Linked DNA regions of Homo sapiens. The protein of the gene in region 2 interacts with the protein of the main gene of each other region in a biochemical or structural test. Each region holds a gene or a part of one and is shown on either strand. Other genes may lie near its edges. The genes, in order: FBXW7, SREBF1, EP300 and CREBBP.

Evidence for each region.
Region 1: the proteins of SREBF1 (region 2) and FBXW7 form a complex in vitro, tested with the Homo sapiens proteins (3 studies listed by BioGRID, with this or other methods).
Region 3: the proteins of SREBF1 (region 2) and EP300 form a complex in vitro, tested with the Homo sapiens proteins (3 studies listed by BioGRID, with this or other methods).
Region 4: the proteins of SREBF1 (region 2) and CREBBP form a complex in vitro, tested with the Homo sapiens proteins (5 studies listed by BioGRID, with this or other methods).

Annotation. Positions count from the first base shown.
Region 1 is NC_000004.12:152,533,070-152,539,980, forward strand, and holds the start of FBXW7 (F-box/WD repeat-containing protein 7), read right to left. Parts: upstream 3,024-6,911; 5' UTR 2,058-3,023; intron 1,965-2,057; 5' UTR 1,872-1,964; intron 1-1,871. UniProt on the Homo sapiens protein: Substrate recognition component of a SCF (SKP1-CUL1-F-box protein) E3 ubiquitin-protein ligase complex which mediates the ubiquitination and subsequent proteasomal degradation of target proteins.
Region 2 is NC_000017.11:17,812,981-17,820,003, forward strand, and holds part of SREBF1 (sterol regulatory element-binding protein 1), read right to left. Parts: intron 6,746-7,023; coding exon 6,558-6,745; intron 6,475-6,557; coding exon 6,340-6,474; intron 6,255-6,339; coding exon 6,033-6,254; intron 5,395-6,032; coding exon 5,280-5,394; intron 4,937-5,279; coding exon 4,716-4,936; intron 4,612-4,715; coding exon of another isoform or gene 4,568-4,611; intron 4,478-4,567; coding exon 4,276-4,477; intron 4,157-4,275; coding exon 3,978-4,156; intron 3,739-3,977; coding exon 3,477-3,738; intron 3,394-3,476; coding exon 3,227-3,393; intron 3,049-3,226; coding exon 2,880-3,048; intron 2,350-2,879; coding exon 2,241-2,349; intron 1,965-2,240; coding exon 1,855-1,964; coding exon of another isoform or gene 1,768-1,854; coding exon 1,635-1,767; intron 1,431-1,634; coding exon 1,265-1,430; intron 952-1,264; exon of another isoform or gene 856-951; intron 790-855; coding exon 589-789; intron 566-588; exon of another isoform or gene 500-565; coding exon 388-499; intron 1-387.
Region 3 is NC_000022.11:41,144,592-41,151,614, reverse strand, and holds part of EP300 (histone acetyltransferase p300), read right to left. Parts: intron 4,877-7,023; coding exon 4,799-4,876; intron 3,779-4,798; coding exon 3,669-3,778; intron 2,578-3,668; coding exon 2,440-2,577; intron 1,855-2,439; coding exon 1,417-1,854; intron 1-1,416. UniProt on the Homo sapiens protein: Functions as a histone acetyltransferase and regulates transcription via chromatin remodeling. Acetylates all four core histones in nucleosomes. Histone acetylation gives an epigenetic tag for transcriptional activation.
Region 4 is NC_000016.10:3,877,702-3,885,073, forward strand, and holds the start of CREBBP (CREB-binding protein), read right to left. Parts: upstream 3,013-7,372; 5' UTR 2,216-3,012; coding exon 2,131-2,215; intron 1-2,130. UniProt on the Homo sapiens protein: Acetylates histones, giving a specific tag for transcriptional activation. Mediates acetylation of histone H3 at 'Lys-18' and 'Lys-27' (H3K18ac and H3K27ac, respectively).

The DNA.
Region 1 (6,911 bases), on a different chromosome or scaffold from region 2:
GTCCCAGCTATTTGGGAGGCTGAGGCATGAGAATCGCTTGAACCTGGGAGGCGGAGGTTGCAGTGAGCCAAGATCGCTCCATTGCACTCCAGCCTGGGTGACAGAGCAAGACTCTGTCTCAAAAAAAAAAAAAATACCGTAATTTTTAACCAATCCATAAGCAATAAAAGTAGGTCCTAAAGTTAGTAAGCAACTTTGACAGAGTGCAACCTACATTCAAACTATAGTTTGTTTCTTAGTTTGTCCTCCCCTCCTTCCCAAAATACAGCTTCTACTGTATTTTGGGTACAGTATTTTAGAAAATGACTACATTTCTCTTTGCAATATCTTAGTGAAAAACAGAATACGTGACTCTGATTCTAACATTACATCCACTATTCAGTATTTTCATGTCAGTACACATTTAAAGGACAGAATTTAAAGTTCCTTACCAAAGCATAACAAGGCAACTAAAGAAAAACAATTCAGTGGGAGAAGTTCCAGAGGAGGGAAAAGTGGTCAAATGAAAGACATTATTCTAAGACAACAGTTGGAGAAACTGATGGTAGAAATAATGAAAGTCCATAAAATTAAGAAAAGATGAACTGAGGCTTGTCCTGATAATTCTTGAAACACAAACTCTGACTGTGTCCTGAAAGTTTAGGGACACAGGTATGGAATATGTAAATGAACTGTCACATAATACACAGGCTAATAAACTTGCAGAACTCATTACTTTAAAAAAAAGGACCAAACATTGTTAAGTTTGAGAAAGTTTTAAATTAATCTAATCAAGATCCTGAATGGAGAACTTCGAAAAGAGAGATAACCCCAGGCTTACATTCATTCCCACAAAGTATCTCTCAGCAGTGGCTTCAGACAGAACGAGCCCACAGTTGTCTAGACGGACCACAATTCTCAGTATACTACTGTCTATGTCTTCTTACATAAAATTCTGCTCTATGTTTAACCCTTAAGGTCTGTATATGAAATATTAATTACTTTCATAAACCTTTAATTTGGTACTCTGACAAGATACCTAAAATACAAGTCAAAGGTTTTATAAACTTCAGCTTTAAAATAATGGAAGGAAAAAATCATTCCTGACTTAAATATCAAAGATGTATCCTAAATTGATACAGAAATAAAGATAATTCAAAAAAGCAAAGCCTCAAACCAAATAAAAAAGTGCTGTAATTTGTTACTCTAAAAAAAAAAAGGGGGGGGTGAAAGGGAAAAAATCACAACTTTTATAAAATGATTAATGTGATAAATGCTCTTCCCCAAGTAAGTTGTGATTCCTAACAACTCAAGTTCCTGAGTAACTGACATCTGTTACAGTGTCCTCCTGACACACATGAAATTGGACCCAGTAACTGAGAAGGTTAACTCCTGTACCAATAGGTACTGAAATGAACCTCTCTCAAAACAGGTTTGTTGTTGTTTTTTAAAAAAGGAATTTTACTTTCAGGGGTCCACAGGTTAAGTAGTTCTCATTCGGGAACCTATATGAGAGTACCCCCGAAACAAAAAGTACACCGCACACACCCACAGTACCAGGAAAAGGTTACAGATACAGATGGCCTCTGTGCGCACATATGCTCTGGCTTCCTCAATTTCCCTTTGCCAACTGCTGGCCAGAAAGGTGCGAGTATTCACTTTGGAGAAAAGACTCCTCCGACAGAAACCTGCATACTTGCATTACTCGTACAAAGAGCTAAAAAGTTACAAAATACAGGCCTCCCTAACACCTTCCCCCCTCCGTGAATAAAGCTAGACTCCCTCATTGATAGACTCCCAACACTACTGGAGAACATCAGCAAAACTCCAGGAGGAAGCGCCGGCATCCTCCCACTTTCTCCCCCTCAATTCCCTCTCCCGGGGCCACTCACACTTTTAGAAAAGAGCCGCGGCGCCGAGAAAGTGGGTTGGTTCCCTTCCTCCTTCGGACTGAAGCGGCAGCTGCGGAAGGCTCCGGCGCGGTACTGAGGAAGAAGCGGTGCTCGTGTCGCTAAACCAGGCGGCAACCCGGGTCTCTTCCGCGCTGCCAGGGGAGGGGAGGCGGCGGCCCCGCTTACCTCCTCTTTTCCTCTTCCTGGGTCTTTTCAGGCTGCGGCTTCTGCCCGTCCAGGGCCACTTCTCCCGGGACAGTCAGGTTTGGGAGACTCCGGATTTTGTTTTTGTAAAGTTTCCTCTGGGTGGAGGCTGCGGCCGGCCCCCCGGGTCCCCCCCGGCCCCGCCGCCCTCGGGACTGGGGCGGGGGAGGGGGGCTCTAGGAACTCCTCCCGGAGTCCAGCCAAGGAGCCGGGGGGCCGGCGACTGGCCAAGGGAGAAGACCCCCGGAGGGGGCTGAGGGGAGGGGGAAGGTGAGGAAAGGACGGCGGCGTCGGTCCTGTTCTCTCCGCCGCCCCAGCCGCCGCTTCACATCGGGGTCCCCGCCCCCCCGGCCGGGGGGTGGTTGCCGAGCTTGGTTGGGGCCCCGGTTCATACACTCCGGGGCAAGATGCTACGGCCCCGGGCGGGTGGCCGAGTCGGCGGCAAGGCGAGGGACCCGGCCGGCTCCGCTCGGCGCCGCCCCCGCTCCCGGCTCCCGCATGTGTCGCTGCGGCTGGGACCCCCCTCCCTACACCTTGGGGGTCTCGCCCCACGCCCCACGGGACGAGGCAGAAGCTCTGGCGCCTCCTCAGCGTTCTCTCACCGCGGAGCAGCTACCCACTCCCGGCCCGTGGTAGCCGCCTCCCTGCCCCCCAAGCCGCCGGCTCCGGCTCAGGCTCGGGCTCCGGCTCTGGCTCCGGCTCCGGCGTGTGCAGCCGCCGCTGCCGGCCGGGAAGGTGAGGGGGGGAAAGGAGTGCGGCCGCGGCTCCCGCTGGCCCAGGTGAGAGCGAAGGTCTCGGCGGCGGCCAGTGCAGGGGGACTGGATCTCTCGGATGCTCCTTCGCTCTCAGTCTCAGCGGCGGCGGCGGCGGCAGCGGCAGCGGCAGCGCCCGGAGCTCAGCTCGCTGTCTCCCTCGCTCTGTGCGGGGCTCTCGCCTCACTCCAGAGAGAGGGGCGGGAGGAGAGCGGCGCCTGCCGATGACGCAAGTCACCTAGCAACCGCTCTCTTCCCCCTCCCTCTTCTTTCCGCTCTGAGGCTTCCTCCGCTGGCCTTTTTCCCCCTTCCAGCCACCCCGCCCTGGGCGCCTCTGGCGCGCTCTGATGACGCTCCAAGGGAAGAGGAAGTGGGGATCGGCGAGCGGGTGGGTGCGCCTCGGGCCGCGGGACTCGCAGCCGCCACCGCCGCTGCCGCCTCTACGGCCGCGTCAGAACTGAAGAGAGGAAGGGGAGGAGCCGAGTCGAGCCTAAGCTGCCGCCCGATCTTACCCCTGACCCGAGGGCGGCCTGGAGAGCTTGGTCTGTAGCGGTTTCCTTCGGGGCAGGTGGGGACTGCTCCTTTGGGAGGAAGGAGGAGGCCCAGGCCGCGTCTTCAGGCAGCTGCGCGCACCACCCGAAGGTGAGGCATTTGGCCCCAAACAGACCCTCGAAAAGCCGGACTGATCGAGGAGTTACCCTACAGCCTGATCTGCACCTGCTCCAGGGAGAGAGCGCCCCACCCTTCCCGTGGCGTGGGGTGAGACCCAGCGTTGGATAACGTGTGGTCGGGCCGAGCAAATGTTTGATGAATGAATGAATGAATGAATGCCTCTCTCACGTGGCACTCGTGAAGCTCAGAGGATATGGTGGAAGTGCAAGCGCTTTGTAAACTGCAGTGCATTGTAAAAATGAGTTGTAATACATTCCTCCCCTCCCCCTAGCCATGAAAGGAAACAGGGGTGCGGCTTGAGTACAGAGTCACAACCTGAGTCTTTAGTGGAAAAGGAGACGAAATGCCGAGCAAGGGAAGGGACCCATCCTCGCGCAGATTGTTAGGGCGGCGGGAAGGGAGGATTGGAAGGGAGCCATCCTCTGGGAGATTGCTGAAGGATTTTTGACTGTCAGGGGAAGAATTTAATAGTCCCTCACTTTTACGAATGGTTCTTTCTTACGGTTTGGAGCTTTCGAGAGCTTCTGGTCTTGGTTCATCAGTGTACGTTGTCATCAAGAAATGTTGGCCTGTTTCAGGTCTGACTCAAAGGTTATTTTCTTTCTAAAATAAGTGTTATTACTATTATGCAGCTTTTCCTACAGATGTTATCCTGGAAAGGAAAGTTAAGTAGAAACTCATGAAGTTTAAAGTGTAGTTCTCTAGGAAAACAAATTTAAGATAAAAGGACCAGAATCCTCAGAAATCTGTCTTCAGTGAATAGTATGAGAAAAAGATTAAAGCAGCAGCAATGATGAAAGCAGATTCCACAATTCTGTCCCTGGACCCTAGTACACTCTACCTCCTTGGGAAGCAGTAGTAATGGATTTTACAAGTCTTTCCACCTGGAGGAGGGGGTAAGGTAGGAGCAAGTGTATTATAGACAAATGTGGGAAGCTCTGGGTTTCTCCCACTACTGCCACTACCATCTGCAAACAGTAAACTAAGGAAACTTTTAACTGGGTAAATCCAAGGGCTCGTGTTCATTAAAATGCTGCGGGAAAGGTGGTGAGAGGGGCAAAGGAGGATGTGGCAAAACCAAGGAGAGACTCACAGACTAGCACCTGACCCTACTGCCCTTGACCTGAAGTTCCAAGAGCCAGGTTAAATATCCTGCTTAAATTACCCTGGATTTTTCTGTCTTTACGTGACCAATCCCCTGCTACAGCCTTCCAAATAAGACTCACAGGTAATCAGACCAACAAGTGATGGTCTCACATGGCTACAAAATAAATATTTTTTGTTTTTCCCCCTCTTCCTATCTTACAACAGGGGAATGGTGGAAATTAAAGGAGTAAAACACACAGATTTAGGGGATTTTGTGAAGCTAAACACCTCAGAGAGTTTAACCTTTGTAGGCTTTGAAGGAAAAGAGTGCAAACATCAGAGTTCTGCAGCCCAGCAGAGAACACCTCCAGTTAAGTGTGTACCACATAGGGTTTTTCAGCAGCGTGATCTTCTGTTTTCATTGTCAGTGGCTCCACCTTACAACCTCAGTGCTGAGGAACAGAAGGGCACTCAGGAGAGCCTGAGCCACTTACTTAGAAAGTATTTAATAACAGCACACTAAGCTTACTGGGCTAGATACCCACCTCAGCACCCAGCTTGATAACAGGAGGAAACAGCTGGAACTGGAGACTGGAGAGAAGGAAGTTCATACATTTCCAACTTGGTCTGCATCTCTTTAGTTCCTTGTATTGCTTATTAATCCAGAGGAGAAAACAGCTAGTTAATTAAAAATTCCAAAAAATCTGAAGTTTTAGCTAATAGTTACTTCCCTGGTTCATCAATTTAAGATAAGGATCTAAATACTGTGTTAAAATATAGAAAAACGGAGACTCTTATAAGGTTTTTGACCTCTACACTTGAAAGTGAGCTCTTACAAGAAACTAATCAGTGTTTCGTTATTCCATATCAGTGGCTTTTACTGTCAAAGATTGTGTAAGCTAAATTATCTGGCAAAATTTTGCTTTCCAGAAATACTATCTATATTAATTTTAACATTTTTATTGTGAAATATAGTTTAAATACATAAAGCAATTATATAGTATAAGTGATTATAAAGGAAACCACCATGTAACCAATCAACCAGGTCAAGAAATGGAATATTTCCAGCAACTCAGAAGTTCCCCTCCCTGCCATGACCTTCCCGAACACAACTCTTTCCCTCCCTCCTAAGTGTAGTCATTATTCTAACATTTGTGATAATCATTTCCCTGCTTTTCTTTGTCGCTTTGTCGCAAGCATGCATCCCTAAACAATATATTGTTTAGTCTCACTCTTTCTTTTGAACTTTATGTAACTGGAACAATATAATATGTAATCTGTTGTTCTTGCTGCTTTTGCTCAACATTGTTTTTAATTCATATGTTGTTCAGGTTGTTCCTATAGCTGTAATTTGTGCATTTTCATTGCTGCATATTACAGTGTCCCATTATAACAATATGTGACAATATGTTTAGCCATTCTATTGCTGATGGACATCTGGGTTGTTTCCAGTTTAGGATTGTTATAAATGCTAATGTGAACATTCTTCATATATGTATTCCATCACATCTACGTCAGTTTCTGTATAACATATACCTGGGAGTGTAATATGTATCATAAACTTGAATAAATAATGCCAAGTTCTTTTCTAGAGGGTTACACAGTCACACTAGGTATATATGAGTCCCATTGCTCCACACCTTCACAACACTTGACATTATTGGTCTTTTTGGTTTTGCCAGTCTGGTGGGTGTATGGTAATATATCATTGTGGTTTTAACTGTCATTTCTCTGATTACTGATGCTGTTGAGGACCTTCTTGTATACAACTAGCTATTTGGATTTACATTTTTGTGGCGCGTTAGTATCTTTTCAATGTCTAAGTCTCTGAGATGCCCAACTTTTCAATATCCTTTCATAGTCCACATTTGAACAGGTAAAGTAATGTTATGGGATGTTTAGGGTGTCGCTTTTCTGGCCAGAAACCTCTGTAGCCTGTGGCGCCTTTGCACAAGTCTTGCTCAGGCCCACTGGGCTCATTCCACCTACTTGGCCTGGCAGGCTGTGCTCAGCTTATGCTACCGGCCTGGATCCCACACCTGCCAAGGGCAAGTACGGCGTGGAGTGGCAAGGCATGTGTGAGCGAGCGTGAGGTCTGGCTACTGCGCAGTCAGACACACCAGCTGCTGCAGTGGGGCGGGCAGCTCCAGATGCACCAGCTCTCTGCAAGGCTGTGGCTGGACCAGGCATACTGCAAGCAGCTTCCACAGCTGGCACCAGGGAACACATTGGCACCCGGAAGCTTGGAGACGCCAGGAACTGCAGGGACCCAAAGAGGGAGTCACAGTGTTGGCTTGGGGAGCTCCCAGGTCTGGGCTCCCCAAAA
Region 2 (7,023 bases):
GGTTCCCCTCTCCCCACCCTAGTCTCAGCCCACACACAAAGTCCACAGACTGAGTCACGCACGTGCAGTCATGTATCCCACAAATGACAGTCACCCCACTGATTCCTTGTGAAAGGAATTGTCATCAGGTAACCATCAAGAAGATGCTTGGTCTTTTTTTTTTTTTGAGACAGGGACTCTCCCTGTCACTCAGGCTCACTGCGGCCTCCAACTCCTGGGCTCAAGCTGTCCTCCCAACTGAGCCTCCCAAAGTGCTAGGTGTGAGCCACTGCGCCAGGCCTGTCTGTCCCGTCTGACACACACACAGCCTCCCTTGGTATCACATCCCATGTGCGCCCTTCCCTGCTGAGCAGACAGCACATCCCTGGTCAGCAGCTGCCCCCTCACCTCCTTTGCCACCGGGGCCTGCCCGCCGCCTCAGACTGCGGTCGAGGAGCTGGTGTGTCCGTGTGGGGCTGGCCCCCGCCATCAGCCGGGCCGTGGCCTCATGTAGGAACACCTGGGGGCCAGGAGAGTGGAGGCTCAGGGCTCTCCATCTCCACCACTGCCTGACTCCCCGTCTTGAGGACAGGGCCATCGGGCACTCACCCTCCGCATGGCGGGCCGGAAGCTCTGTGCCAGCCGCCTCAGGCTGCTCAGGTCCCGTTGGAAGCCACGCAGCTCAAGGGCGGAAGCCTGGGGCCTGCTGCTGGTGCCCTGGGCTGCTGGGGCCGGGGCCGGGGGCTGCTGCTGCCGCCACAGGCTGGTGCGCACCACAAGAAGCAGGTCACACAGGAACAGCTGCACGGCCTGGGGGTGGCAGGCAGGGCAGGGGTCACCAGGGCTCCAGCTCTGGGAGGGGCAGGATGGGGGCCCGTGGTGCCAGGGGCCGGCTCCGGGCTGCACTGCCGAGGCACTGCACCCGCCTCACACACGTGCAATGCAACAGCAATGCACCGCGGGGCCGCCCGCCTCTCTCGGCCCCCACACCCGCCACCGGCCCGGGAGCAGCTGTCCAGCCCTCCTGATGCAGGGCCTCCAAAGGGATCCTACCACACCATCCACCCCCCTCCTCCCAGGGATGGGGAAACTGAGGCCAGATAGGGGCAACCCCTCTCCTCTGGACAGAAGCCTTAGCCAAAAAGCAGGGTCTGCTGGACCCCCTATCCTGTGCTGCTTGGGCTAACCCCATGGTCTTCTGCAGCCCCTGGGGGCTGGGGAGAGGAACCAGGGAATGGAAAGCTGAATCCCCCAGCCCTGCCAGGCCCCTGACCCCACCCCTCACCTTGTCAATGGAGCTGCTGGCTGGTGTGGTAGCCAGGCTGTCCTGCAGGTACCCACTGGCCTTCTCACAGATGGTCAGGCTGGCTGGACCAGACTCTGCCTTGGCACAGCCCAGCAGGGCCCGGGCAGCCTTGAAGGAGTGCAGAGCTGCCCTGGGCAGGGGTCTCCTGTTGGGACCAGGGCAGAAGAGTGCCAGTCAGACCAGTCCACAAGCCCTGGCTGAGTGCCCCCCACTTCCCTGGCTCGAGTTCCCTGAGGAAAAAAGGTGGTGACTCCTCCTGCACAGAACAAAGGCTGAGTGAGGCACAGTGCCCAGGGGATGAGGAAGGCTGAGCCCGGGACCAGGCAGGAGGAACCTGCCGTGCACTCACTCAGACTCCTGCAGCACCCGGGGCAGGTGCTCCACCAGCGGGCACAGCCGCTCAGCCGCCTCCTCATCCCGCCGCAGCCAGTGGATCACCACAGCTGTCAGAGAGGCCCACCACTTGGCCACCGGGTCTACGCCTGCAGAAGAGGGAGGGTCCCCTGAACCCTCAGTCACGCTGCACGGGGGAGCTGAGAAGGGAGCCAGGACAGGGGCCGGGGACTCACCGGTGGTGGTGGCCATGCTGGAACTGATGGAGAAGCTGTAGGCAGGAGCCCCCGCAGCATCAGAACAGCTGTTCAGCAGCTGCAGGTACCCGAGGGCATCCGAGAATTCCCTGTGGAAGGAGAGAGCTGGCTGTCGGAACAGATGGCAGGGGTCCTAGGAGGGTGCTCCCCACCTGCCCTCCAGAGTACAGCCTGGCCCCTGGCTCTGCAAAGTGCCACTGTCTCCTCCCACAGGCTGGTGGGGAGAGGAAACTCAGAGAGGAATGAAGCGTGCATGGCACGCACGGTAGCCCAGCTCTGGGCTCTCTCCACAGGGTTGAGGCCAGAGCTATTCTCAGAATCCCGCCGGAGGGGCCTTGCCTGGAGGAGGGCACAACGACACTTACTTGTCCCCATCAGCTGACCCAGGGCTGGGGTTGGGCTGGGTCACACAGTTCAGTGCTCGCTCTAAGAGATGTTCCCGGAATAGCTGAGTCACCTGGGCCAGGGGGTCCACTGTGGAGAGGAGGAGGTGAGTGGGGTGGGGAGCAGGGCCCCACCCTCCTCTCCAAGCTAAGGGCTTTTTCCTGGGTGGGCTGGGGCCACACCTAGGGCCACTGGGAAGTGCCGGCATGCCCCTGGGTGCAGCCCCTGCCAAGGACAGGGGAAAGCGGGTGGACATAACTATCACCAGCACCAGCCTTGGCCAGGAGACAACACTGAGGCCTGCCCTACACTGCTTCCAAAGGAAAACCGACTTGAGAAGATGCCATTGTTGGCTCCGCTTCCTTACTCCACAGCGGCACTGCCTGGGGTCACTTCTCCAATTAGCCATCTGCCCATCAATCCCTGCATGTGCTTCTGAAAGCCCCAATGGGAACGAGAGGCACCCAGGCCTTTCCCTTCCTGCAACCCCCACAGCAACAACCCATGGCAGGGAGAAGGACTGGGGTGGCCAGAGACAGCCAGAGATTCAGGCGACAAGGGACAGGACAGGAATGAGGATGAGGGACAGGAGAGGGGACAGGGAAGGGGTAAGAGAGCACCTGGGTTCCCGGCCAAGCTGTACAGGCTCTCCCATGGGGTACTGAGCACGGACCAGTCCCCATCCACGAAGAAACGGTGGCCCACGGGGTGGCAGAGCCACTGCATGGCAGGAGGCACTGAGCCACTCTGTGCCAGGCAGGCCTGGCGGGCACTGCTCAGGAAGAAGCGCTGTAGGGGAGGGTACTGGGCTGTCACAGTGGACACAGCCTGGGGCCAGACCCCGGGCCGAGTCCCAGCTTGGCCTGGAGTCCCCCTGGTAACCACTGCCACATCCCGTGTAGCTCTTACCCAGGGAGCCTCTGGAGAGAGCTGCAGGGATAAGCCCCCAGCCCCCCAACCCACTCACTGTCAGAAAATGCAAGGCCCGTGGGAGACTGGTCTTCACTCTCAATGCAGCCGCCACATAGATCTCGGCCAGCGTCGCCACAGACACGGCATCCCCTGCACACTCTGCCAGGTTCAGGGCACTCAGCGCCAGGTTGGTGGCAGTGAGGTGCCCGCCTGTGTGCTTCCCTGGAAGGCAAGCAGGCATGAGGCTGTGGGTGGAGCACAGGCAGCAGGGAGCACCTCGGAGCCCGCCCCACGCTCAGTCCTACCCATGGTGTGCAGCTGGTGCAGCTTATGGTAGACCAGGGCTGCGTCTCGGGCGCTGGCGCTAGCATCCACTCGCAGAGCACAGTCCTGCTGCAGGCCCCCTGCCCGGCCTGCCAGCCAGCGGCCCACCCAGAGACGCTGCAGCAGGTGACGGATGAGGTTCCAGAGGAGGCTACAAGCCAGGTCCAGGTGGGAGGTGGGCAGGGGCCGGCCCAGTGCCCGCAGGGCCAGCCACAGCTGCTGGGCAGCCTGGGCAAAGTCTCCCTGTGGATGAGGGTTTTCCAGGTGAGAAAAGTGAGGTCAGAGCAGCTGCCCCAAAGCTCAGAAGAGCCGTCCACAGCAGGCTCTGGAGGGGTGGTGGGGGTCTGCGGATGCGTGGCTAGGCACAGGGAGGACGGGACAGATTCATGGTGTGCACAGGGAGCAGGAACAAGGGTTGACACCCAGCACCTTCACAGCCTGGGGTCCCTGCCCTGCCCACTCTGCCGGGGCCAGCCCCTTACCCGGGCCAGGTCCAGGTCAGCCTGCTTGCGATGCCTCCAGAAGTACACGGCGGGGCCTGAGTGGGGCCGTGTGACTGGCTCACCGTAGACAAAGAGAAGCACCAAGGAGACGAGCACCAACAGCCCATTGAGCAGCCAGACCACTGGGGGCAGCAGCCACTGGGCCCAGCCAGGGCCATCTATGGACAGAGGGAAAGCTGGGGACACAGCTCCCAGGAAATCCAGAGCCCCAAGTTCACAAGCCTGGGGGCTCACCCCGAGTGTCCCTCCCAAAGATGCCCAGGCTGGCCGGTCCCACCTCTGCTCTCGGTGCCCAGCACGTTGCGCCCAGGGCTATGGTAGACGCTGGTGGTATCTGAGGGGCTGGGAAGCCCCCGGGCCCCCAGCAAGGAGGCCAAGGGGTTGCAGGACAGGCAGAGGAAGACGAGCGTGCACAGGGCCAGGCGGGAGCGGTCCAGCATGCCCCGGCTGTGCAGAGACGGCCGCTGCTCTGGCTTTGCCTGGTGGGGTTGGGCAGGGTGGTGAGGGCAGAATCGGAGGGACCCCAGAGAGCATGGGGCTGGGAAGGGGGGGGTCAGGATTCTGCCCACCTTACTGTGGGACCCCACGTGGCTCCAGGCCTCAGTTATTCTGTCTATGAAATGGGAGGTAGGATCTGTTAGGGTCTTCCCGGCCCTGTCATGAGGCTCAGAGGATATGGCTGGGAGTGGGGAAGGGGGCACCGTGGCAGGGCCCAACCTTGCTGTCCTCAAAGACTGGGCTGTCAGGCTCCGAGTCACTGCCACTGCCACCGCTGCCACTGCCCCTGCTGCCAAGGGACAAGGGGCTGCTCTGGAAAGGTGAGCCAGCATCCGAGGGGGGTGGGGTCAGTGTGTCCTCCACCTCAGTCTTCACGCCCTCCATGAGCACGTCTGTGTTCCCTCCACTGCCACAGGCCGACACCAGATCCTTCAGAGATTCTGTGGGCCGAAAGGAACAGAGCCAGGAGTAAAGGCTGGATATGTGACCCCAAATCAGAGCCTAGGCCCTTGGAGGCCTAGGGACTACTGTAGCTCCTAAAGCTAGCCCAGGACGCTTTGATGGGGCTGGGTTAGGGCCAAAGGGAGGCACCAGGTCTCTTTCAGGACCAGAGGTAACCAAGGGACTAGAGCTGAATGCAGGGCTACAGCCAAGGGTGAGGTGGGCAGGGCAGAGGGTGGGCCAGAACCAAGGGTGGGGTGGGGCTAGGGATGGGGTGGGGCCGGGAGGTGGAGCAAGGCTAGAGAAGAGGCCAGACTGGAGCTCAATAAAGCCAGGACTCACTGCTTTTGTGGACAGCAGTGCGCAGACTTAGGTTCTCCTGCTTGAGTTTCTGGTTGCTGTGTTGCAGAAAGCGAATGTAGTCGATGGCCTTGCGCAAGACAGCAGATTTATTCAGCTGCACGGTGTGGGAGGGAGGGGGAGCGCACAGGTGGCCTGTCAGGTCGGGGGTTGTGGGGTTGGAGAGCCCTAGCAAGGGGGTGCGGAGCTGCTTTGCAACATTACTGCCTCAGGACCTTTGCACTTGTTCCTTCTACCTGAACCGTTCCTCGCCTAGTAGCACCCACCTCCCAGGCCGGGCATAGGGTTAGAATGTAAGATGCAGACAGCAGGGTCTGGCTAGCTGCTGCTGTGCCTGCCGCCATCTCAGGGAGGCCTTCCCTGGCTACCACCAGGGGACCCTCACCATCCTCTTCCTGCTTTCTCTGCAACGAGCCAAACGTGGTGGTCTCGAGCACTTATTCATCCTGCCTACTGTCCATCTCCCCCACCAGAAGGTCGGCTCTTCTTTGAGGGACAATTTTTGTCTGTCTTGTTCATTGCTGCATCCCCAATGCCTAGCACAGCCCCACCTTTATTGAAGAGGCCTGCAAACCAGTTTAACTAAATAAACGAGGCTGGCCAGGCCTGGGGAGGCTGAATTCCAATTCCCTGCTTGTCCAGGCTCAGTCTCACTCCCTCTCTTCCTTCCAGTTGCCCCTGATCTGTTCCTTCCTAGGGACACCCCGGTCTGTGCCCCTGCAGGCCTCTCCACACCTTTGCCTCAGTGCCCACCACCAGATCCTTGAGCTCAATGATTTTGTCATTGATGGAGGAGCGGTAGCGCTTCTCAATGGCGTTGTGGGCTGTGCGCTTCTCTCCACGGCTCTGGGCAGAGGCCGGGGCCTTGCTGCCAGCTGCGAGCCGGTTGATAGGCAGCTTCTCCGCATCTACGACCAGTGGGACTGTTGCCAAGATGGTTCCGCCACTCACCAGGGTCTGCAGGGCCAGGCACATGTTACCAGGTGGGCATGTGTGTGTGTGTGTAGACCCCACTCCCTTATGCCCTGCCCACGTCACCCACCGGCAAAGGCCCTGTCTGCACAGTGGTGCCAGAGACCAGGGGACTGAGACCTGCCGCCTTCACAGTGGCTCCGTCTGTCTTCATGGCTGTCAGAAGCAGCGAGTCTGCCTTGATGAAGTGGGGCTGCAGCAGGACCTGAGGGTGGGAGAGGCTTGGCTGTAAGCTGTGTGTCTGGGCTGGGGCTGCCCCCTCCCCAACCCCTGGCCAGACCCCCTCACCGGGACCTGCTGGATCTGCGAGGTCACAGTGGTCGTTACAGGGGCTGCCGTGGGGGCAGCTGTGACTGTCAGTAGCTGCTGGGGGACCACACTCTGGACCTGGGTGTGCAAGGAGACGGGCGGGACCCCTGGCGGGGAAGCCAGTGGCAGGCCAGGCAGCGGCTGCTGGGTGTTCCCGGGAGGGCTTCCTGCAGAAATAAAGCATGGGGCTGCAGACACAGACCTCCCTCTCCCACTTTCAACCTGCTCTTCAGGTCTCTATCACCGACTGGCCTTGGATGAGTCATTGCCCCATGTGGCTTCCTATGGACAGTCCCTGCCTGGGCTCTGATGCAAATGCACTGGCTTCAAGCCAGGCCTCCAGTGCGAGGTTGCGCCTACCCCGGCAACAAGCACACCAGGACTGCTAGTAACAGGGCATCTCAAGCAGCCGAGTGGAGCCCCAGTTTCTAAAGCCTGCACAGAC
Region 3 (7,023 bases), on a different chromosome or scaffold from region 2:
ATCAAAGAACCAGCAACTATTTCATTGATAACTATCATTATCTGGCAGTGTGTGGGGATTTCAAAGATGTCTGCTTCAGAGGAGCTCACATTTATACAGAAATGAGTGAAAGAAAATAAGAAAGACTGGCTTGTTTTTACCTTCTCACCAGAGAAAGTTTCAAAGGTACAGAAAAGGAGACAATAAATATAATGATGTCCCAGAGAGTGGCTGTTTTGAATCGCTAGATTCTAATGAGATAAACTGGCATTCCCTATCTTTATCCTAAGGCTTGTCATAAGAAATCTCTTAATGAGAAGTCAGTATTTTCTGGAAGTATCCTTGATTTTATAAAGAATAAAATCAAGCAGATCCACTGGTTCCTCTCTCATTCTGTCCTTCCTTGTCTATCAGAGGCCACGATGAACCAGCCATCCGTCAAGTACAGTACTTTATAAAACGGCTGTGACTCATGGAACTTCTCAGTTCATCAACATGGCTGAGAACTATTGGATACCGATATATATTAATATCGGTATCAAAGTAGAAGCTTCTAAACCCTTAAAAAAAGTTCTATTAATAAGGATTCAACTATTAGATGAGAATTTGGATTTTTATTATATACATAACCAACCTCTCACAAGGAAGCTACAGGTTGTTCTGGGTCTATAATTCTCTCATCTTATTTTTAAACTTTGGTTTGGGCCACAAGGACTCATAAATCTGCAATTTTTTTTTTTTTTTTTAGACGGAGTTTCACTCTGTCGCCTAGGCTAGAGTGCAGTGGCGCAATCTCGGATCACTGCAACCTCCACCTCCCAGGTTCAAGCCATTCTCCTGCCTCAGTCTCCCGAGTAGCTGGGATTACAGGCACCCGCTACCATGTCTGGCTAATTTTTGTTATTTTTTTGTAGAGACAGGGTTTCACCATGTTGGCCAGGCTGGTCTTGAACTCCTGACCTCAAGTGATCTGCCTGCCACAGCCTCCCAAAGTGCTAGGATGAAAAGTGTACACCACCGCGCCCGTCCAAATCTGCAATTTTTAAATTCAATCTCTAGGTTTTATGGCTCAAACTGTTTGAAAAAGATTCCTTAAATATATGTAAAATTTATGTGCTGCACTAAATAATATACTAAATAAGGAGAAGGATTGTGTCCCCTTGTCGTACCCCTTTACGTACCTTCAGACCTCAGGGTACAACATGAAACATAATGGTCAAAGTCAGAGCTAAATAAAATCTTTATGCTCCTGCTACGATAGGTACTATCACAGGAAGGCAAAACAGGATACAAAAGTCCCTAATGAAAAATAGATTACATTCTACTTGTGGAGAAAACAGTAAGAGATAAAGCAAAAGAGAATGGAAATGGCCCAGAAGTAATATAATACTACAGTATAGCTCTAATGATTCTGCCTAAATCCAAATCTCTACTTACTGGAGTTGCAGGCTGCGGAGGAAGCAGCGGTGCTGTTGGGGTAGGAACAGACGCTGCTGTGCTCTGCTGTGAGCGAGGCTGCTGCTGGGGCTGGTCAGCAGAAGGTGCAGCAGGAAGTGAAGGCTGCACTTGTTGGGGAAGTTGTGTTGTTGGTGGTGTAGGTGTCTGCCTTGGAGGGGGATGTAGAGCCTGGGACTGTGGCCCAGGTGGCATGGCAGGAGGTGTAGGAACAGGGGCTGGAATTGTTGTTGCTGGTGGCTGCTGAGCCCCTATGCTTGGGGGAGTATGGTGAGGGGTGGGGGTACGACTAGGTACAGGCGAGGGTGAATTCTGATGAAGAGCTGGTTGAGGAAGCTGGGGACAGTGAATGTGGCTCCCCTGAGACCCTGGAGGCATTATAGGAGAGTTCACCGGGCAGGAAGAACTAGACATTTGTGCCTGTTAAAATAAAAAACATAACAAGACAGCAATTCAGAACAGAATTAAGGAAATACTTACATAGGCATGATATATAAATTTAGGACACAAACTGATTAAACAAAGAGTAGCAATGTGTCTATTTCAAAATGTGTAAAATACCCTATTACTGGGCATGTATCTTTGGACAGCACCATCAAGATAGTACTTAACTAAAGAGACTTCAAACCATTCAGCAGAATGGCCTCAGCCACCGCAGAAAAATGGCAGAATTGAGTGCAGAGTGCTCTAGGGCCTGCCTATGCTCTTTTCAGCCAGATTTCCTTCTACATTGTGTTTAATTCTAAGATTTATTTTAAAGTGTTCACTAGTAAAAACAATTAAAACTATCCATTTAAATTATTTCCTACTTTGTAACAATTAACACCATTGCTATGTCACAGAATAATCTCTTCATGTTCAGAATACCCTAAGTCCAAAATTGTTATTTTTTAAAAAATCATCTGTTTTCACCCACTATTTGCTGCCACTCTCTCCTATAAAAACCTACATCAAGAGAAGTTTCAAGAATCAAAAATAAGTGAAAAATCCACTTATGAGACATACTTGAGACACTGGAGCTTGACCGCTGGACGGAGCCAAAGGGATATTTGTTACATTCATTCCCTGTGATGGGAACTGAGTCTGAGGAAGGAACTGGCCCTGGTTGGAAGGCTGTTGCATACGAGGCCCATAGCCCATAGGCTGAAAAAAAAAAAAAACACAAATCACCAAACTGCTTCATTATAGTTATTCTACTATAACTAAAATCATCAAATGCTCCTAACGTCAGGCTTATTAAGTAGAGAAAAGCCAAAGACAGGAGTATAGGTGAAGAGGGCTGAAGAGGAGAAGGAAGAAAGTTGTAGAACAACTGACTCTTGTGCCAAGATAAAGAGAAATAGCCTCACAGTTTACCTAGGCCTACTCCAAGAAATAGTAAGAGGATGGAACACACATTCTCTTGGTACACAAATATGCCTAGCACAAGGATAGCAGGTAATTTTCTTTGCATGCTCTGTTAAGTGAGGAGAGTTAATCACAATTTCATGAGGTCATGTCAGTGATGTAATAACACAAATTCTAAGACCCATAATATGTAAAAACAAGAAAATCTTACAAGTTGTAGCAGAATCTGGTAGCATTCATGGTCCACAAATGCTCTAGCACTGTTACATGTCATTTCCAAAATTACCCTACACAAATTCAGGCCTTAAAGAAAGAAATCTCGAGTACCAAAGGCCAAAAACTTCATAAGCTAAGACCATCTGTCTTATAGGTTAAAATGAAGGACAGAACTCCCTGTTGAAAATGGCAGATTAGTGAGAAGTAGTAATGCTCAGGAACCCCCAAAAGGGTCAAGAATCAGAGGCACCAGCTAACTCTAAAGGGCAGCAGGAGGGTTAGGGTCAAGGTAGAGAGATGGACTGGTTAAGAGTTCGCATAAGGAGCAGGAGAAGCCTAGTCTCTCTTCTCCGAGTTCAAGAACCAGGCAAAAACGCACCATCAACCTTGCAAGACAGTTCTCTGCCTGGAGGAGGGAAGACAGACATCAGGGAAGAGAAGTGACCGTGAAAACGCATGCAGGCCACTAAACACTGACACTCCAGGGACAAGGGACTGGCTGTTTTCGTTTTTTGGTCAGCTTTCTAGTAGAGTTAAATACAGAAGAATTACAGAAGAACTAGGAGTTATGGTCTGTTTAAATGACTGTGAGAATTTATAAAGTAGGAACAAACAGGATTTTCAAAATACCAGGTAAAGGCCAAAGAGATTACCAAAGACGTCAAACTAACCGGGTTGAGAGCTCCAGGTTGAGCCAACTGTCCATGGTGCTGAAGAGGAGGGGTTTGCCGGGGTACAATAGGGGGCTGGGCCATGCTCATCTGGCCAAATTGATTCAAACCTGTGAATATGAGCAAAATGTTAGATCTGAATGCCTTTGTGAAATTGAATAATAAAAGATAGAATTCTTATGTCTGATTCTGTATCTTTTTTTTTTTTTGAGACGGAGTCTTGCTCTGTCGCCCAGGCTGGAGTGCAGTGGCGCAATCTCCGCTCACTGCAAGCTCTGCCACCTGGGTTCACACCATTCTCCTGCCTCAGCCTCCTGAGTAGCTGGGACTACAGGCGTCCGCCACCACACCCAGCTAATTTTTTGTATTTTTAGTAGAGACGGGGGTTTCACTGTGTTAGCCAGGATGGTCTCTATCTCCTGACCTTGTGATCTGCCCGCCTCAGCCTCCCAAAGTGCTGGGATTACAGGCGTGAGCCACCGCACCTGGCCCTGATTCTATCAGGACTAATAAACTGGCTTTCAACCTTCTAAGTATAAATAAATCTGTCTCATTCACAGTAGCAGTAAACAGACATTATCAACTAACAGGATCTCCAAACTGAATTTTACAAATTTTACAATCTGCTTTTTTTTTTTTTTTTGAGACGAAGTCTTGCTGTCACTCAGGCTGGGGTCCAGTGGCGCGATCTCGCCTCACTGCAAACTCCGCCTCCTGGGTTCAAGTGATTCTCCAGCCTCAGCCTCCAGAGTAAATGGGATTACAGGCCCGTGCCACTACAACCGGCTAATTTTTTTGTATTTTTAGTAGAGACAGGGTTTCACCACATTGGCCAGGCTGGTCTCGTACTTTGACCTCAGGTGGTACACCAGCCTCGGCCTCCCAAAGTGCTGGGATTACAAGCGTGAGCCACCATGCCCAGCCTGCAGTTGTTTTTTAATGGATACTTGATCATTTAATGTCACCTGCCCTGTGATCTGCCAGCCAACCTGCTCTTCACCCCCTCTTCCTCTATGGGCAGGTAATCATGACACTTGCTGTTGGCATAAAGCGGGTGTTCAGGTAGCAAGTATTATCTTGCAGTACACCGGGGATTCTTTTAAAATAAAAAAATTTTTTTCACTATTTACCAGATTGTGGAGTTATTCGAGGCATCATCTGGTTTGGCACACTGCCACGGATCATACTTGGGTCAGGTAGAGGGCCATCTAGAGTAAAAAAGAGAAATAAGTATCTTTGCACCATCTTCCCTTAACCAAACAAAAACTCACTGCACACACAAACCCCACAAAATATTTTTAATAATACCTTTGAAAATTGAGTATGAATCACAAAATAAAGCTCTGAACTAGACAGAAGCTTGAAGAAAATGTTATTTCTGGAATACAGAAAAATGCCTCCAAGTGGATTTGTTGGTATTCCTTTATGAGCCCGGGTGCTTTCAATGTTGATAGAAAAATAAGCTATTGAAGCCATTATAGGCCAGGCACAGTGGCTCACGCCTGTAATCCTGGCACTTTGGGAGGCTGAGGTGGGTGGATCACTTGAGGTCAGGAGTTCAAAACCAGCCTAGCCAACATGGCGAAACCCTGTCTCTACTAAAAATACAAAAAAATTAGCCAGGCGTGGTGGCAGGCACCTGTAATCCCAGCTACTCAGGAGGCTGAGGCAGGAGAATCGCATGAACCTGGAAGGCGGAGGTTGCAGTGAGCCAAGATCACACGACTGCACTCCAGCCTGGGCGATGGAGCAAGACTCTGTCTCAAAAAAAAAAAAAAAAATTGAGGCCATCATAGCATTTAATATGTTATTGTTTAACAAAGTCTGAGTCTGGTTGGCATGCAACAGAGTATCTCCATGGATAATAGCTATGAATCATGTCTAATGGTGGCCGAATTTGATCATGTAGCACAACGTTTTTATGCACATAAACTGTGAACATTGATTTTAAATAATATGCATATTATACCACACTACATATCATGTACCTCTTAAATACAAAAACAGAAATAATTCTTAAAAAAATAAAATATCCTGTAATCCCAGCACTTTGGGAGGCCGAGGCGGGCGGATCACGAGGTCAGGAGATCGAGACCATCCTAGATAGCACGGTGAAACCCGTCTCTACTAAAAATACAAAAAAATAGCCGGGCGTGGTGGCAGGCGCCTGTAGTCCCAGCTACTCGGGAGGCTGAGGCAGGAGAATGGCGTGAACCCGGGGCATGACCCCGGGAGGTGGAGCTTGCAGTAAGCTGAGATCGTGCCACTGCACTCCAGCCTGGGCGACAGAGCGAGACTCCGTCTCAAAAAAAACCTAAAATATAAATACATAAATTCTAAGGTCTTTTTCCTGGATTATCTGCACATGCTCTAGTGTAGTACTTTCAACATAGTGCACAGAGAAAATATTTTTACAGCACCCTCGGAAAGGACAGATGTCTGTAGTGACCTGGCTCCACCCTGGCCATACCCTCCATCAAGGGCTGTACATTCAAGCCTCAGGCATAGGAGAGGAAGACCTGCTGCTCTTCTAAGGAGATGTCCATCCCTTCAGACAAATTTCAACCTTTAGTAAATGAGCAAAACTGAGAGAGGAAATGCTCAACATTTATTCATATAAACTTTTATCTGTAACTCTGCAAGCTTTATAAGAAGTATATGCATAATCCATGCTCATTACATAAAAATTAAAAATCAATAGAAAAATGAATCAGGATCCAACAAATGACCTTGAGATAAACCTTTCCTCTTCCTCCCCACACATATCTGTATTCACGCACACTATCTACAAAACAATGTTTTCACCTAAGATATGAGTAACTTTTTTTTCAAGTCAACAATATGGATAGGTGTTCCAAGCTAAATGGCAAGTGCCAAGCAGCTAATACCAAGTAAAACTGTTTTAAGTACCCAAAACAATAGAGAATGGTGAGGACTGAAGTGGAGAGAAAACACAGCTCTTCTAGAGTCAGCCATGAGTGCAGCTATAGACAGGTGTCACTGTAGGAGAAAGGGGGTCAAGTCTGCCAGACATGTCCTTTTTTTTTTAAAGCAGCCAGAAATTCAGACTTTTTAAATGCAAAATCTTCTGATTTTTAAGTATTTGAGACTAATCAAATGAAAATGGTTTAAAAATAAAACCGCAATCCTACTGCCCACATTTGCCCCATATGATGCAGATACGAATGTATCTATTATTGCTCCATGAGGCAGCTCTTGTCATTTTAAGGAAACTTGATGAATTATTTAAAGGAACATCTTGATACTATTTTTTAAGATAAATATTTAAAGGCTGGGCGCAGTGGGTCACACCTGTAATTTCAGCATTTTGGGAGGCCGAGGTGGGTGGATATCT
Region 4 (7,372 bases), on a different chromosome or scaffold from region 2:
GCAGCCCCTTGTTTAATGTGCTTGATAATGAGCCCTTCCTTGGTCCCCCATACTAACAGACCCTTTCACAATAGTGTGATGGTGATGAATGTGTAACACATGACCCAACTTAAGTATGATGTTGACTTTCTACTTTGGATTAAATCGGAGCCATTTAAAGCTGACTTTTGGTCCCACGAAAGAGCCCCTGTGCCTTACAAGGATCAAAATTGTAAAGGAAGGGGGAAAAGGTGGTTAAGTGTGGAAAATCCTTTCTGATCAACTTATTAAGCATCTGATCATCCAATAATGGACACTACTATGGAAAAAGCTAACCTTTGGGCTCCATCTTGGAAACAGCTGGATGTACATATAAGGACATGCCTTTTTGTTAAGTCTTGTGTTACTAATTGTCCCCCTTTTTAAGACAAAATCTACAACAAATTCATTCAACAACAGCAAAGCTACAAAGCCATCCAGGTTACCAGTTTCAGAAGACAAGCTTCAAAGCTGAACTCGCCACGTATGACCTACGTCTCACAGAACTGAAGACTACTCAAACACAGCAAGATTAATGAAGCAACGGAGATCTGTTTTGCAGTACAACGGCATTTAAACTACTGTTTCCAAATTTCTCACTTCAATAAGTTCATTTTATAAGATTAACGTCAAACTCAACTTTTATCAGCTAAAAAGAAAAGCATTAGTGATTTTTATATACCATGAGCATCATTTACTCCTCCCCACTGTTTAACAAATTTTAACTAGATAAGAATCTCCTTATGATTGATCTTTAAAAATCGCTTTTCACTTCTACATTAATATTAAACGTCGCTTATCATAACTTGATTCCAGGAATTGTATTCAAACTTAAGCCACAAAATTCAGGTTTTGTTTCAACAGCAATAGCAGTTTTTTTTAATATGCTAGTGGTCGGTCACAGAACTATTTCCACAAGTTGAACAGCTGTGTCTAGTGCAAATCTGAAGGCAGCGATGTAATTCAATTTGGACTCATTCATTAGAAACTGATTTTCAGATGCTACCACTGCAAGACTACTGGAGAAATGCAAGCTGCGCTGGAGATGGAATTGTTCGCAGCGGCACACAAGTTTTTGCGGCAAAGGAGAGAGCTCTAAAAGAGGAAATACAACTAGTTCATGTTACCATGAACCAGCGCAGTGGGACCCAGAATTACTGAATTAATAGAAAACTAAATACTTCTCTTAAGCAGCTATGATAACTTAAGAAAGTTTCCAGGGAAGCCGTTTAATGAAAGGAAACAAACAAAAAGATGATTTATTCAGTATCCTGCTCCATTTTTTTGAAAAATTGGAATTCCTACATTCCTTAATTCTTTGTACATCTACACTGTGAAAGCAACACAAACTCAAATGGAGATTGCAGCCCAAATGAACTTAAACCTGCTGTTTAACTTTCTTTTGAAGTTATACATGGAAATGAAACACACCACAGCAACTTTCATGACATCTTGCTAACGAAGTTTGGGTTTTGAAAAATGGAATGACTAGTTGACTAAAAACACACACGCGCGCACACACACACACACACACACACACACAAAACAAGGAGTTTTGAAAATAAGCACTAAGCATCTTTCCAAGGAACTCACTCATTCCAAGAAACTTCGGTTCTAACTCGCAAGCTGGCGGCTGCTGTGAGTGTCCTCTGAATGCAGCCTGGTCAATGTGTCGCCAATCCAGAAAACACACTGCCCTACCTTTGGCCGCGATCTTGCTTTCTCTAAGCATCAAAGGTACCCTCCGCTGTCATTCCTCTGGACGGCCACGCGTGTGGACACGGCCGCGGATGGATGCGTAGGACATTACCAAACAAACCCACACGCTGCACTTTACTTCTTCCCTCCTGGAGTGCCACTAGGGTCCCCGCGAGGAGGGCTGATCGGGTGCGGGGAGGCCGAGTGCACCGGGCGTGTGCTGACCAACTCGGGCCCAGTGACAGTCCTGCGACGAACTTCCACCCTCCCGCGCGGGGCGAGGGGAACGGGCTGCGGGGCCTGCTCCGAGCTCCCGGCTCGATCGGTATCCGCGACCACGACCCCCGGACGCTCTCTTTCAGGTGGGGGTGACAGCGCGCCCCGGGCCCCCGCCGCCCCGGACCCCCTCCTCACCTGTGCTGTCATTCGCCGAGAAACCGGGCGAGCTGAGTTTGGCTCTTTTGGGGTTGGGCGGTCCGTCCAGCAAGTTCTCAGCCATTTTCACCTGCTCGCGAAAACAGCCCCGGGCACGGGCGGCCGGGCCGGCGAGGGCCCGGACGGGGGTCGGGGGCCCTGCCGGCTGCGAGGGAGAGGAGCGAGCGCGGGCCGCGAGCGGGCGGGCGGGCGCCGAGGGAGAGGGAGGGCGCAGGCCGGGTGGGGGAGGCGGCGGCCAAATCTCAGCCACAGCAACAGCGCCCCGCAGCGCTCACCGCCCGCCCCCGGCCGCCGCCGCCGCCGCCGGCCGCGGCCCCCTCATCCCCTGCCCGCCTCCCGAGCGCGACACTCCGCGGTGGGGGCGCCCCGGCGGCCCGGCCGCCCCCCCGGGCCCGGCTGGCAGCGACGGCGCCCGGCCGGGCGGCTCAGGCAGTCCCCGAGAACATGGTGCCGCCGCCGCCGCCGCCTCGCTCCCCCCCCGCGCCCCACTTAATGAATTCGCTCGCGGCCCGACGACGAGGGGGCTCCGGGCTCCGCTCCCGGCCCGCGGCCCGCCGCCGCCGCCGCCGTGAGGAAAAACAATGCGCCGAGCGGGGTCGCCGCCGCCGCCGCGGCCCCCCCACCCCCCGTTCCGCCGCCGCCGCCGCCGCTGCCGCCGCCGCCGCCGCCGGGCTCCGGGAGGCCGAGCCGAGAGGCGAGCGGGGCCGCCGGGGCGGGCGCCGAGGGCCGGGCGGAGCGGGCCGGCCGGGCGGAGCGGGGTGCGCGGGCGGTTGTGGGGCCCGGGACCGGCGGGGCCGAGTAGATCGCGCTCGAAGCCCCGGTCGGGTCCGCGACAAGATGGCGGCTGTTGATTCCTCAATTAAAAAAAAAAGAAAGTTTTTTTTCTTCTCTTTCCAGAGCCTGAACGGGGAGGGGGTGGGGGCGGGGCACGCCGGTGCGTCACCCCCCCGCGGCGTCACCACGCACGGCCCCCGCCCCGCCCCCTCCACCTGCGCCGGCCGTGGCGGAAAGAGCCGAGCGTGCTCGGGCCGAAGGGCTGAAGGCGCGGCCGCCAAGCGTAGGGAAGCTGGCGGCCCGGCGCGGGCCAGGCCTGCGGGGCGCCTGGGCTCCGGGCTGAGCCACAGCTTTTGTTCTGATGGCGACCAGGCGTAGAGGGCCGGGGCTCCGGGCCCCAGCGGGCTCCGGGAGCGGCGGCCTGGCCGCGGGCTGGGCTCTCGGGCGCGGATTCGACGCCAGCCCGGGCCCGCCCGTCCCGCTGGGGCGGCGCTGCGTGTTCCCAGCTCCTCGCGTCCCCTTCCCCAGACCCTCCTAGGTGGCGTCGGTCGGGAACGGTCGGGGCGACCCCAGCCCAGGCCGCGCCACTAGCCTTCGCCGCCGGCCAGGGAAGTGGAATGGCCTCTGCAGGTTACAGACCGCCCTTGGGTCCTGCCGACGAGGTGGGCGGATGGGGAAACTGAGGCGGGGGGCGAGCAACTGCTCCAAAGTGGTCGAGGCAGGAAGTGGCAGGGCCGGGATTCGGGTCCCGCCCTACCTCGTGACACTAGGGAGTGAGGGGGCCTCACGCCTGTTCGCATCCCAAGGCGGCAGGGCAGACACCCTCACCTGTGAGAGCGGGGTGGCGAGGGCCGGCCTGGGCGGAGAAGGGCCCGCGCATCGGGGCTTAAGCCTGGACGCTCAGGCCGCACTCCCCGCCCCAGGCAACTTGCCTGGCGCCTCGCAGGTGCCCCAGACAGGGGTGCGGGCCTGGGGAGTCCCCCACGCGAGACCACAGCCCGCGGGACACTTCTACGAATACCCGAGGTGTTCCCATCCCAGTTAGTTATCTGCCCCTCCAAACTTGCCCGGCTTCCTCATAAAGGTATCAGCAGCTCCACTGTTTCCTAAGCCAGAAACCCGTGAGTCAGCGCGGACTCCTCCCTCTCACCCGCCACGCGCCCCTCTACCCACGGTCTTTACCTGGGAGACTGCTCCTCCCGCACTGTCCCGGTGGCTATGGTGGCAGCTACTCACTTAAGTGTTCTTTGCTCTCCACGTTGCTCCCCACGCAGCACCAGAGTTAACATCCCGAAAAGAGAGGGAGAAAATCTGTTTAAAACAACTCCCTGGCCAGGCGCGGTGGCAGATCACCTGAGGTCAGGAGTTCAAGACCAGCCTGGCCAACATGGTGAAACCCCATCTCTACCAAAAATACAAACATTAGCTGGGCGTGGCGGCGTGCGCCTGTAATCCCAGCTACTCGGGAGGCTGAGATGCGAGAATCACTTGAACTGGGGAGGCCAGTAAGCCGGGATCTCGCCATTGCACTCCATCCTGGGCGACAAGAGTGAAACTCCGTCTCAAAAACAAAACAAAACAAAACAAAATCCCAGACATAGAAAAAGAAAACACTACATAGTCTTTCTTTAAAAAAGAACACGTATGAATTCTCTTAAAAACATAGGTGTATGTACATATGGTGACTGTCCTTGAGTGTCAAGATTGAGTGATCGTTCTGCTTTTCTCTGTTTACCTGTACTGCTCAAAATCTTGGGCCGTGATACCGCTCTTGAATCTGTCTCTTCTACTTTACATGGCTCACTTCACCATCATCATCCTACACCCACTTGGCCAGTAGGCAGTTCACATCATTCAGGCTTTTTTTTTTTTTTTTTCAAATGCTGGTCCCTGTGCTGAGAAGACATGCCTGGCAAATTCTAACTCATCCTCCAGAACCCAGTTCAAATGTCACCTACTCCAGGAAGCCCTCCTAGCCCACTCCTCGGCTCCCATATCACTTCTGGGCTCTGTGAGAGAACACATAACACATCCTGCCCCATCTTCCCCGCCTCCACTGCCCCCGAATTAGTTCATGTTTTTACTTATGCATCAAATAGCTCTTGAGAATCCCAAGGGCATTGAGACTGTGCTAATCCCCTTGGCCAAACATAAAGAGATCCCCATATATTCAAGGAGTTAAAATAGCACACCCTGGAAGCCATAAATGGAAGTATTCAAGAAGTCAGTTTGCACAGGAATGGCAAGAAGTGTATCAGTGGCACAGGGCAGGCCACACCCTGTATCTGAATGCTCTGGGTGTCCGTCTCACCAAGGGTCTGTGAGCTCCTTCGGGGCAAAGATGGTGTCTTAGTCACAGAAACAGTGCTCTGCAAGAAGAAGTAGGTTTGTAAAACTGAATGAGTGATGAGCTGTGTCAGGTGCTCTGAGTCCTAGAGGCCTTCAGGCCACTGAAAAGGGTGGGCCCCAGCCTGAGGTGGCTCCAGGCCACTCTTCAAACGGGACAAGGTGTCCAGCCACCTAGAGGTCTTAGGGCCTGCCTTGGGGCAGTGGAGACACCATGCAGCCCCCCAGGGGTCCATTGGTGAGTGGTTTACACAGAAGTGGGCACAGGAGCTTGAGCCATTCCCTGACAGGTTTCCATTTTACAGAGGAAAGCAAGGGAACTCAGTCGCAAGGACTCAGAAGTAAATAACCCGGACATGGCAAGTCTGGGCCTGGAACCCATGTCCTCACTCTCCAAAGACCCTAGTCTTCCTGTCTCACCATGTTCCACCCTCAAAATATACCGGCTCTGCAGTCCCTTTTTCTGTCTCATTGTTCTCACCTGTATCATTTTGATCAATTCTGGTATTCACTGATACCTGTTTTTTCTTTCCTTTCGATTTCTTCTCCCTTCAGTCTGACTCAAAGAACCCTGAGCTCAGACACTGATGGGGGAATAGCAAGGAGGGAAGCGTGGCTCCTGCCTGCACTCACTTAGCTGGGGATCACCTTCAACAAGTGAGTGCCTTAGGGATACCAGGCCGCTCTGCCATGCCTCCCATGGATAGCACTTCCTACAATCCTGGAAGGAAAAATTGTCCTCATTTCACAGATGAAGAAATAAGGCACAAAGGAGGACAAGCCACCCAGCCACGAAGGGGCTTCACTCCGGTGCACACCTAAGGCTTCCTGCTCTTTCCACAAACCTCACCCTCTCCAGTCTCAGATACCACATTAAAAAACAATCAAAGGACTGGGCATGATGGCTCATGCCTGTAATCCCGGCACTTTAGGAGGCCGAGGTGGAAGGATCTCTAGAGCCCAGGAGTTTGAGACCAGCCTGGGCAACAGTGAGACCCTCATCTCTACAACAAAATGTTAAAAAGTGAACTGGGCGTGGTGGCATGCACCTGTAGTCCCAGCTGCCTGGGAGACCAAGGCAATAGGATCACTGGAGCTCAGGAGGTTGAGGCTGCAGTGAGCTATGATCAAACCACTGCACTCCAGTCTGGGCAACAGTGAGATACTGTCTAAAAAAAAAGAAAAGAAAAGAAAAGAAAGAGAAAGAAATGGAATTGGAATTGTTGGCTGGATGCGGCGGCTCACGCCTGTAATCCTAGCACTTTGGGAGGCTAAGGTGAGTGGATCACTTGAGGTCAGGAGTTCGAGACCAGCCTGGCCAATAAGGTGAAACCCTATCTCTACTAAAAGTACAAATAAATGGCTGGGCATGGTGGGGGGGCACCTGTAATCCCAGCTACTTGGGAGGCTGAGGCAGAATTGCTTGAACCCGGGAGGCGGAGGTTGCAGTGAGCCAAGATCGCACTCCAGCCTGGGCAACAAGAATGAAACTTCGTCTCACAAAAAAAAAAAAAAAAAAAAAAAGAAATGGAATTGTTGCAATTTGATATTGATTGTCCCTTTCTAGGCTTAAATAGATTAAAAGATAGCATCAGGTTTGGACTTTGCCTTCAAGCGATGCAGAACAGCATTGGGGAGAAAAACACAAACAGGACACACATTGAAAAGATAAGCAGAGAATCCAAGTCAGAATAGCACAAAATCATAATAACTGATCCCCCAGGGGTGGGAGTCCCGGGGTTGGGGGGCAGAGGCCTGGGGGAGTAGTCCCAGGAAGGCAGGATTCCAGCCAGTTCCTGGTGGACAGAAGGCAGAATGTGGTCTGGTGGTGTGGAGGGATCCAGACAGAGCTAGGTTCAAGTCCCAAACCTACTGCTTTTTCTTAGCTGTTTTGAAAACAAATACCTCGGCCAGGTGTGGTGGCTCACACCTGTAATCCCAGCACTTTAGGAGGCCAAGGCGGGCAGATCACCTGAGGTTGGGAGTTCGAGACCTGCCTGACCAACATGGAGAAACTCCATCTCTACTAAAAATACAAAATTAGCCGGCCTTGGAGGTGCATGCCTGTAATCCCAGCTACTCGGGAGGCTGAGGCAGGATA